Linked DNA regions of Homo sapiens. The protein of the gene in region 1 interacts with the protein of each later gene in a biochemical or structural test. Each region holds a gene or a part of one and is shown on either strand. Other genes may lie near its edges.

Evidence for each region.
Region 2: the proteins of CNOT4 (region 1) and CNOT6 form a complex in vitro, tested with the Homo sapiens proteins (one study listed by BioGRID).

What each region holds. Positions count from the first base shown.
Region 1 is NC_000007.14:135,499,464-135,504,891, forward strand, and holds part of CNOT4 (CCR4-NOT transcription complex subunit 4), read right to left. Parts: intron 1-5,428. UniProt on the Homo sapiens protein: Has E3 ubiquitin ligase activity, promoting ubiquitination and degradation of target proteins. Involved in activation of the JAK/STAT pathway. Catalyzes ubiquitination of methylated RBM15.
Region 2 is NC_000005.10:180,562,883-180,568,310, reverse strand, and holds part of CNOT6 (CCR4-NOT transcription complex subunit 6), read right to left. Parts: intron 3,823-5,428; coding exon 3,718-3,822; intron 3,637-3,717; coding exon 3,568-3,636; intron 2,492-3,567; coding exon 2,334-2,491; intron 1,224-2,333; coding exon 1,069-1,223; intron 463-1,068; coding exon 308-462; intron 1-307. UniProt on the Homo sapiens protein: Poly(A) nuclease with 3'-5' RNase activity.

The DNA of each region.
Region 1 (5,428 bases):
TTCCCAAGCACTGTATGAATTAAAAAAAAAACATAAACTATTAATAATTTGAGATTAATTCAATTTAATCTCAAATTTTCGAACAGTTTGGAAAAGATTTTTCAAACAGGGAGTCGTTTTCTCCTCTCCTCACCCACAGCAACCCACTATGACACTCATAAAGTCATCCCATACTCCAAGGGATTAAATACAAATTTCCTGGGGAAAACACTGGATTTGGCAGCTATCACTGAAGATATTCCCAAATACTAAGGTTCTCCTGTATACCCTATATTTGATATTTTCTTCCCTCCCACATACACTGGTGACAGCAAGAAAGATGGATAATCCTTCTCAAGATTCTCTACACAATGGATATCTCAACTCAAATCTCAAATCCAAAATTAAAACATGAAAACCCCTGTTAAAACAAACCCCCCAAGGAGAAGGCAATGGCTTTCTATTCTAGTGTTCATTTTCAACAGCACACACGATCAGCTAAATGAGGAAGTTTTAAAATGTCAAAAATATTTCTGTCATATTACTAGAATGAAAGAGGTCTAAGGATAGAGGCGATGCCAACGAAAAACAGATTATTTCCCAATAATGTACTATGTTGCATCATCTTAATCACTATTTCCCAAGTCACTAAAAGGTTCATGGCATTATGATAGGTCCTATATTTTATAATAACAATAAAGAAAATGGTAAAATTAAGTTTAATTTTAAAATTATAAGCACAGTTGAGATGTTTTCAGACTCAACTGTGGGAAACTTTGAGATCCACATGCTACATACAGTAGAGGAATACCTGAGACATTGAAGGAAGCATGAAGATAATAAGTGGCAATACAGTATTATTCATCTACCTCATTTACAAAGCGAGAAACAAGAAACCTACTTTTTTCCCCCAGCTTTAAAATAAAATGTAAAATTTTCCTTCACAAAACAAAGTATGCTATCCAGAAATACACAACAGATCCAGAAAGTTGGCTTAATGCAGGGTCTACAAACCAAAACAAAGAATTTTAAAAAAACTTCAAAGTTCACAGAACTTAAAAAAAAAATTCCAACCAAAACATATACGGCTGATGTTTAACCAGACCTGTTTTTTAATATTACCTGTGCAAAACAAAGATATCGAAGTAAATGAAAGGATAAGTTTTCATTTCACAATCTCCCTGTATACTTCCTCAGCCTGCGGACCTACCTTTATTCATCCTTAAAGGGAGTTGGTAGCTAGAAATATTTAATGCCCTACTTCATCAGAATTTTCTTTAGCTCTGATCAGGCCATTATTAAAGTCATCCAGTAATATTTACTGGTTATAGCTATTCAAATGTGAGTAGTCTCCTAATAACCGTTCTGAACTAATATACACATAGGAAGCAGGTAAGGCCTAAATTTCTCTTTTACAAATGAAGTATGTTCATTTCTCTTACTGTAATAAAGATAATATTTCTTTATTTTCCAAGCTCCTATTCTCCAGTGAATATCTTTAAAATCATTCAGAAACACTGGTAGCTATTTTCTACTAAACCTTTTTTTTTTTTTTTTTGGAGACAGAGTTTCATTCTGTAGCCCAGGCTGGAGTGCAGTGGTGCCATCTTGGCTCACTGCAACCTCCGCCTCCCGGGTTCAAGCAATTATCCTAGCCTCAGCCTCCCAAGTAGCTGGGATTACAGGGGCACACCACCATACCTAGCTAATTTTTGTATTTTTAGTAGAGACGGGGTTTCACTATGTTGGCCAGGCTGGTCTCAAACTCCTGACCTCAAGCAATCCTCCCACCTCAGCCTCCCAAAGTGCTGGGATTACAGGTGTGAGCCACCACACCAGGCCTACTAAAACTTTTTGAGGCTGTTATTGGAGTAATCATCTATCACTTTCTTCGCAAAAGCTGGGCTTGGATAACAAATTGCAGTTTACTATCAAAGACAAATAGACCACATTTCCTCAGTTCTCTACTCTTCAAAACCTTGGTGTCACTTTAGGGCATGAGGGACTAAAGAGAAGATGGAATCAATTATCTGACAAATCCTGTAGAATTTCCATCCTAACGTCTCTCAGAATAGCTCCTTACCTCAGTGGCTTGGTCTCTAATTTTTCAAACAAACCTCAAGTGTCATCCCCAAAATATGCTGCACACTATTGAACGAGTAATCTTTCTGAAAAACACTCTCATGTTTTCTCCTGCTCCCTATCAACCTCTACTGGCTTCTTATTGCTTAGCAGATTAAATTCAACCTGACACCAATACACCTTTCATAATCTAGCTCTACCCTACTAATACAAATTTATCTGCCACCATTCCCAGTAATTAACACTTTATTCCATTGAGATCAGACTCCTTACATCCCTCTCACATCATGCTAGCCCCTATCAAGTGTTTGCTCATTCTTTACTGTGGTCTAAATGTCTCCTCCACAACGCATATTGAAATTTAATTGCCAGTGTGGTAGTATTAAGAGTTGAGGCCATTAAAAGAGGTGATTAGGCTATGAGGGCTCTACCCTCATCAATGATAATGCCATAGTAATGGAAGTAGGTTCCTGATAAAAAGCAAGTTCTGCCCTCTCTGTTCTTGTTCTCTCACCCTCTCTTGCTCTTCTACCTTACACCATGGGATGACATAGCATGACGGCCCTGCCAGATGCCAGTGCCATGTTCTGGTTCTTCCCAGTCTCCAAAACCATGAGCCAAATACATTTCTGTCGATTATAATTATCCAGTCTGTGGTATTCTGTTATAGCAGCATAAAATGAACTAAGACATGCTTCCATTCCCTATATAGAACGTACATAATGTTCTCCTTCTGGATATGCTAGCCTATACAAACAGTACACAATCTTTATTCAAGACTCATCTTCTTCAGGAAGCCTCACTCCTAGGACTTTAGTCTGAAGATATCCCTGTACAAACAGACTGGACTCATACTACATGTAGCACACATTATTTGTACACTGCTTTGGACAGTGCTAATTATATCATTATGAAAGTATTCTTGACAAGATAAACTCTACAAAGAAGTTCTGCCAAATTTTCCAAGAAGTGGTTCCATAAGCAAAGTCTGTTTGAAAAATTGATTAAGGCTGGGTGCAGTGGCTCAGGCCTGTAATCCCAACACTTTGGGAGGCCGAAGCGGGCAGATCACCTGAGGTCAGGAGTTCAAGACCAGCCTGGCCAACATGGTGAAACCCTGTCTCTACTAAAAATACAAAAACTTAGCCAGGTGTGGTGGCGGGCGCCTGTAATCCCAGCTACTGAGGAGGCTGAGGCAGGAGAGTTGCTTGAACCCGGGAGGTGGAGGTTGCAGTGAGCCAAGATCATACCACTGCACTCCAGCCTGAGCAACAAGAGCAAAACTCCATCTCAAAAAAAAAAAAAAAAAAGAAAAAAAGAAAAGTTGATTAAATAATCCTGATTTTGGCAGGGCACAGTGGCTCACGTCTGTGATCCCAGCACTTTGGGAGGCTGAGGCAGGTGGATCACCTGAGGTCAGGAGTTTGAGACCAGCCTGGCCAACATGGTGAAACCCTGTCTCTACCACAAATATAAAAATTAGCTGGGCATGGTGGCACACGCCTGTAGTTCTAGCTACTTGGGAGACTGAGGCAGGAGAACCGCTTGAACCCAGAAAGCAGAAGTTGCAGTGAGCCGGGATGGCACCACTGCCACTTTAGCCTGGGTGACAGAGTCGGACACCATCTCAAAATAAATAAATAAAGACATTTTATTATATCACAGCATAGTGGCTCACACCTGCAATCCCAGCACTTTGGGAGGCTGAGATAAGAGGATCACTTAAGCCCAGAAGTTTGAGACTACCCTGGGCAACAGGGTGAGCCCCCATTTCCACAAAAAATAAGAAAATTAGCTGGGCATGGTCCTGTGCCTGTAGTCAGAGCAACCTGAGAGGCTGAGGTGGGAGAATTGCTTGAACCCAGGAGTTCAAGGCTACAATGAGCTAGGATCATGCCACTGCACTCCAGCCTGGGCAACAGAGACCATCTCAAAAAAAAAAAGAAAAAAAGTTCTAGTACGAATGAAACAATGTAATGACTAAGATTTGATACTATTTGAAGCTGAGTAACAGGTACATGGTGGTTCATACCTACTTTTGTACTTGTTTAAAAATACCAAAAGTTCCTTTTTAAAAAAGTACTAATAACGTCTTTATATCATTTTAAATGGCAAAACCAAAATATAACATTTTCTTTACCCAAGGAAGACATAGGTCCCTACTGACAGTAAGAAAAATGTGTGCAGAAAGATTTAATGCAGAATCCTAATTCTCATCTAAGAATTAATAAAAGTTAGAGGAAAAAATATAATCAAATAGAAAGGATTTCCATGAAAAGAAAAATTAATCCTAACTACTAAAAGCAACACTGTTTATATTATACAACTTCAATTAGAGCATTCACAAGACGGTCCACCCAAATAACTGATGAAACTTTAAAACTTCAGAAAAAAATCTTAAGCAAAATATGGGAGGCAGAAAATAAAGGGGAAAAAAGGAAAAAAGTTGCTACAACCAATGTTCAATAACACAAATCAGCCAATGTTATTTTAGAAAATTCACAATCTGAAAACACCTGATGCTCTAAGGGAATGGATTAAAAGGTTCTTAAATAATCAGAAAATTAGCACTTCCACTCTATTCCAAACTCTGAAAAACATGCTCAGAAAATTTCAGATATTTGGATTAATGACCATGTATCTGTTTGTTGCTATTAAGAAATGCTCCACCCCTTTGAAATTTCAGTCTAATTGCTTTTCAAAATTCAATCACTATTTTGCCTACATCATTCACTAATTGCTTCCAAAAGCAGTAATATAAGATCTACTAATTTTTTTTTTTTTTTTTGGAGACAAAGTCTCACTCTGTCACCCAGGCTAGAGTGCAATGGCGCAATCTCAGATCACTGCAACCTCTGACTCCCAAGTTCAAATGATTCTCCTGCCTCAGCCTCCCGAGTAGCTGGAATTACAGGCACGTGCCACCACATCCGGCTAATTTTTTTTTTTTTTTTTTTTTTTTTTTATTTTTATTTTTTTTGAGACGGAGTCTCGCTCTGTCGCCCAGGCTGGAGTGCAGTGGCGGGATCTCGGCTCACTGCAAGCTCCGCCTCCCGGGTTCACGCCATTCTCCTGCCTCAGCCTCCCAAGTAGCTGGGACTACAGGCGCCCGCCACTACGCCCGGCTAATTTTTTGTATTTTTAGTAGAGACGGGGTTTCACCGTTTTAGCCGGGATGGTCTCGATCTCCTGATCTCGTGATCCGCCCGCCTCGGCCTCCCAAAGTGCTGGGATTACAGGCGTGAGCCACCGCGCCCGGCCCATCCGGCTAATTTTTGTATTTTTAGTAGAGATGGGGTTTCACCATGTTGGCCAGGCTGGTCTCGAACTCCTGACCTCGTGATCTGCCCACCTCGGCCTCCCAAAG
Region 2 (5,428 bases), on another chromosome or scaffold:
CCTGAGCAGTTATTTTAATTAATATTTACTTCAACATTTATTTTATATGAAAAATTCTTAGGAGCAAAAAAAAAAAAAAAGGTTTTTTAATGCTTTTCAAGGCTTCTAATACTTTAATGGGCAATGCTTTCTCATGTTAAGCTTTGTGGTAGAGAAAAAGAGATACATTTTAGGAAAGACAACTTCTCACTGAGTTTCTTCAGGTGTTAGACAAGACCATGAATACACAATGAAATTTCTGTTTTCTATTCTTTTGAAGATGTCTAGTCAGAGCTGGTCAATTTTACAGGAAGTGAAGGGCACTCACACGGCATTTCAATCGATTCCTTCCGAAGTTCTAGCAGTACTGCAACCCCAATGTTATCTTTTGTCATGACTCTGTTCAGCATAGCTTCAGACCCCTCAGAATTTGCCATGGCTAGCTGATTAAATTCAACAGTGTGTTTCTGAACCAAAGTAAATCTAAAACAAAAACAACACACACACACACACACAGAGTTGGGAATACCAAGAGGTTAGCTTTGTGGGAAACGCAGTTTTCCCAAACTTCCTTAACAGATACGATGGCACTTAAATCACATTACGGAAAATCCTCCACGTTCAGCATCAAGCTTCCCACATCCATTTAAAGTTGCTCTCAGTCTGTTATTGATACAAATAACAACTTGAAATATTTTTACAACTGAAGAAAATGTAGTCATCTTCTGTTTAAGTTTTATGTTGGAATATTCTACCTTGTAATTTTTAAACAATTCTTTTCTAAAGTATGGGTTTAAGAATCCCTGTACCGTCATAGAGGGAATTTTAACTACATGGTATTTCAATTAACAATTGGGAGTTAAACCCTAGTAAACACCTGAAGAAACAGCAGTACTTTAAGCATGTCTCCAAAACAAGGTTATTTCTGATGATTAAAAACAAACAAAAACCCCCTAGGTCAAACAGTATTCTTTGCTTCAGTAATAATATAGTGCCTCATTCTCTCATTTGCCAATTAGTTTCCACACCCTTGGCCCCCACCCTGCAAATACTGAGAAAACGTTCTTTTTAAAAAATAAGATGACTTACTTTTCTGTCTTGAAGAATATTGCACAGCCATCAACATGTTTCCTTTCTTGTTCTGACATTGTCCTAGCTCTAGACTTAGGACTGAAGAATCCATTATAGCCACGTTCTTTCAGCTCTACCAGAAAAAAACTGTAATACTGTTCCGTTTCAACCTCCTGAAAAGTTGTAAACAGCACAGTTATTTCATAAGACAAAAATTAGTCTGCATATTAACTTCTATGTATAGTTTGAGAGCTTGAAATAATTTCAAAGGACTGGTCTGCAGATTAAAGAATGTAACATCTTTCCGGGCCGGGCATGGTGGCTCATGTCTGTAACCCCAGCACTTTGAGAGGCCGAGGCGGGCGGATCACTAGAGCCCAGGAGTTCCAGACCAAGCCTGGCCAACATGGCGAAACCCCATCTCTACTAAAAATACAAAAATTAGCCAGGCATGGTGGTGCATGCCTGTAATCCCAGCTACTACGGAGGCTGAGAATCACTTGAACCCAGGAGGCGGAGGTTGCAGTGAGCTGAGATCATGCCACTGCATTCCAGCCTGGGGGACAGAGAAAGAGCCTGTCTCCCCACCACCCAAAAAAAAAAAAAAAAAAAAAAAAAAAGTAACATCTTTTCAACACTATTTATCTGAAACCAACTGGAACAGCGACTTGTCATTTTACAGGTACTAGGTACCAAGGGCAACTCATTGTTGTTTAAGAACAGTGAGTGAAAGACACACTTCTATGCATGTGTATTTCCTTATGTCTTAGAACTGAGGTGGAACAAGAACCACAGAGGTCGACGAACTTTACAAATCATAACTTCAGACCCTTGGGCAGAAAGTAACATGTTCAAGATCATATGAGTGACTATGAGAGTTGCACTGAGAACCCAAAATGTTCGTGTACCAAGTCAGTCCTTTTTACACGGTGCCTTAATTGTTCTAGCAACATGGTCGGCAATGCAAGTTATAGCTTGACCACGCTAGAATTTCAGTAACTTTGCCACCCAATTCAAAAATAGTGCAGGGACGCTGGAGGGAGGAGGAAGGTGAGTATTTAGCGGTCATGGCAAACGCATAAATCCCAGCTTAACACATTTGCCTATTTTGCAACATAGCACTGCAAAGCAAAGCAGGCAGTACTCCCAGGATTCACTAATAACAGAAAAAAGCAGTACTTTAAGAACTACTGAAGCTAAAACTTCAAATGTGTCAGCGTAATGTATTCCTAGTTGCTCCTTCCTTTATCAATGCTAGGTTGACTGTCTTCTGTCTGACTTACCTGAAGACTTACGATATCAGCATTGCAGCTCAAGATTTCTTGAATAATGGCCTTTTTCCTGTAGTCCCAGTTTAGCGCCCATGATGGACAGTAGCCGTATAACTGCCGGGTCGCATATTTATCACAAAGAACATTATAGCACATGACAGAAAACAAGGCTGTAGGAAAGATAACTTTACTTATTCACACATGTGGCAGAAAAAAATATATAATTAATTTCAGTAATGGTTTTCACTTAAATGTTAAGTTTGACCGTATTCATTCAATCTATAGTCACTGAAAAGCTACTGTACGCCACATATGGGGGATAAATAAAAGACGGATAATGCAAGCAGGATAGATAAGTGAACAAGTTAGAATACAATGTACTACCTGCTACAGAGGTAGGCACAGAAGGTCTGGAAGTGAAAAGTCTAAGCTCGTGAGCCCTTCAGTCTCTGAGCCTAACATTCCTCATTTCTATACTCCTTCTACCATGCTACCAACTGTTAATGTAAGATGTGGAAACTGGATAGGTAGTATCCTTAATAGGCATGCCTCATTTTCTTCTACAGCACAACTATTGTTAATTCATGCAAAATGAAAACGGTATCACAGACCAAATTTTGTTACACGCACCATGAAAGCTCCCAAACTATTTACATAGAATTTAGGTTAAAAGGAGATGAGCAGTCATTAGTTCCACTTTCCTCTAAGTAAGGGTTTGGCTCTCTTATAACTCGGTAGTGTCAAATCCATTTGGAACATGCTAGGATTTGGAAACTTCTCATAGAGAAAAATTTGGGTGTATTCATTTTAAGTGAATTTCATCAGTACACTACAGAAGGGTTTCTCAACCAGAGTCGCACTACTGACATTTCAGGTGAAGTCTGTTGTGGGGGCCTGTGCCGTGTACTATAGAATGCTGAGCAGCAACCCTGGCCTCCATCCACCAGACGCCAGCAGCACTTCTCCCCAGTTACGACCATCAAAATTGTCTCCAGACATTGCCAAATGTCCTCTGGGGGATAAACTGCCCGTTTGAGAAGCACTGCTTTATAGCACACTTTCTATATAGCACAATGTAGTATACATAGAGGTCATGTGAGCAAGAATTCTTTTTTATTACCTCCCAAACCAAACCAACCTTAAACATTTTGTCTTAATGCTACCTGTAATCTAAGCATGCTGACAATACTGTTAGGCTTATAGAGACTGAGCAAAAATAACAGTTAAAAAATAAAAGACTACCAACCAGTTGGCCTTGTCCTATCTGGTTCTTGTAACATAATCCAAGACCTTGGAGGTGGTTGTTCTGTTGTAACTAGTTGAATAGAAAATACAGAATTAAGCAATATTCTTACACGTCTTCCTAATAAAAAGGTTTAAACAAATAACCACTTACTTCTTTTTGCAGTACCTGACAAATTATCAAGCAAATAGTTCAGCAGCCGTCTTGTTCCATCTGGTTCCTGATAAAGGTTCAATATATCCTGGGTAAGGGGATTTCCTGGAAATATTTTTGAAATAAGTAAAATGAAACTAAGTAATAAAATGTTTCAAAATTTTAAAATGTATCAAAATTATCAGATCATCCATAACTATGTTATAGTTACTAGTAAGATGTCAGACTATAGAAAATATTGTTTTTTCAGTTTCTGATATAAGTAAAAATGATTCATACCATGTTCTATATACACATTCAAAACATAATGTTAATGGGCTGATGTCAATCAGAAATGCACTAGCAGTGCTCTATATCTGACCCTGCCTTGCCAACACTTTCAATAATACAGATGGTTATAACAAACAAGAGTGAGCAAAACACGAACGGGGCAGGCAGGTGACTGGGAGAGTGGGTGGGCAGAGGAAACAGTGAAGGGAAGGATGAAAGCCAGCGTAATGCATCAGAGAATCAAAACTCTACAATGTCACAAAGCTAACAACAAAACACCCTAATGACAAATATACACTTGCACTTAGATTTTTTAAAGTCATACTGAACAAAGCAACAAAATGGGGCTGACTTGGCTTAAGAATTAACTCACTAAGGAGGGGGAAAAAATCCCAGGGCCATGAGCCATCTGTAAATTCAATAACTGCTTTGTTCCAAAATGAGAGCAAAAACAATGATTTACATATACCTACAAGAATCTCAAATCCTCTCAGAAGGGTTTCTTATGTACATGAGAAATAAAAGTACAAATAACAACAGTGCAGCGCAGGGTTTCATGGAGCAAAGTTCCTATCCATCCTACACAAGCATTGTGTATTATTCTGGATGCCACAGCGCCATTTTAAGAAAACCAGACAAATTCTGCAGTTTGAAGAAGGCAGATAAAATGGTCAAAGATGTTAACCATACCAAATGAAGAAAAACTAAAGGATATGGTAGATAAGAATGATCAAAACCTAAAGGAAGTGTTTTTTCCTATTCTCTCATAAAAGACTGGACTCAAAGAGCAGAAGGAAGACATGCCTGTAATCCCAGCACTTTGGGAGGCCGAGGCGGGCGGATCACGAGGTTAGGAGATCGAGACCATCCTGGCTAACACGGTGAAACCTCGTCTCTACTAAAAATATAAAAGAAAAAAAAAGCAAAAACAAACAAAAAAAAACAGCCAGGCGTGGTGGCGGGCGCCTGTAGTCCAGCTACTCAGGAGGCTGAGGCAGGAGAATGGCGTGAACCTGGGAGGCAGAGCTTGCAGTGAGCCAAGATCGCGCCACTGCACTCCAGCCTGGGCAACAGAGCGAGACTCTGTCTCAAAAAAAAAAAAAAAAATTTAACAGGAAAGGCCAAGGCCGAATAGAAGAGGTTGGCAAACACTGTTAACTATTTGAGACACCCTGTGCTGTGAGGCAGTGGAGTATCCTTCAAAGAAGCTGAGTTGCATGGATGGGAAAAATGGCAAAGTTCATTTATCTTTAAGATCTTTCGGTTTTAAGATTCTAGGATTCTAAGAATTATAAAAAGAAAAATGTGCTGCTCTAAGTGCAAAGTAGGTATTTGCAGGAAGGCAATTACAAGAGTACCATTCTCTCACGTGTGTGTGGTTCTTTATACCCACCACAGCCTTTTCATGTTTTCACTGAGTCACAATCCCGTGAGATAAGCA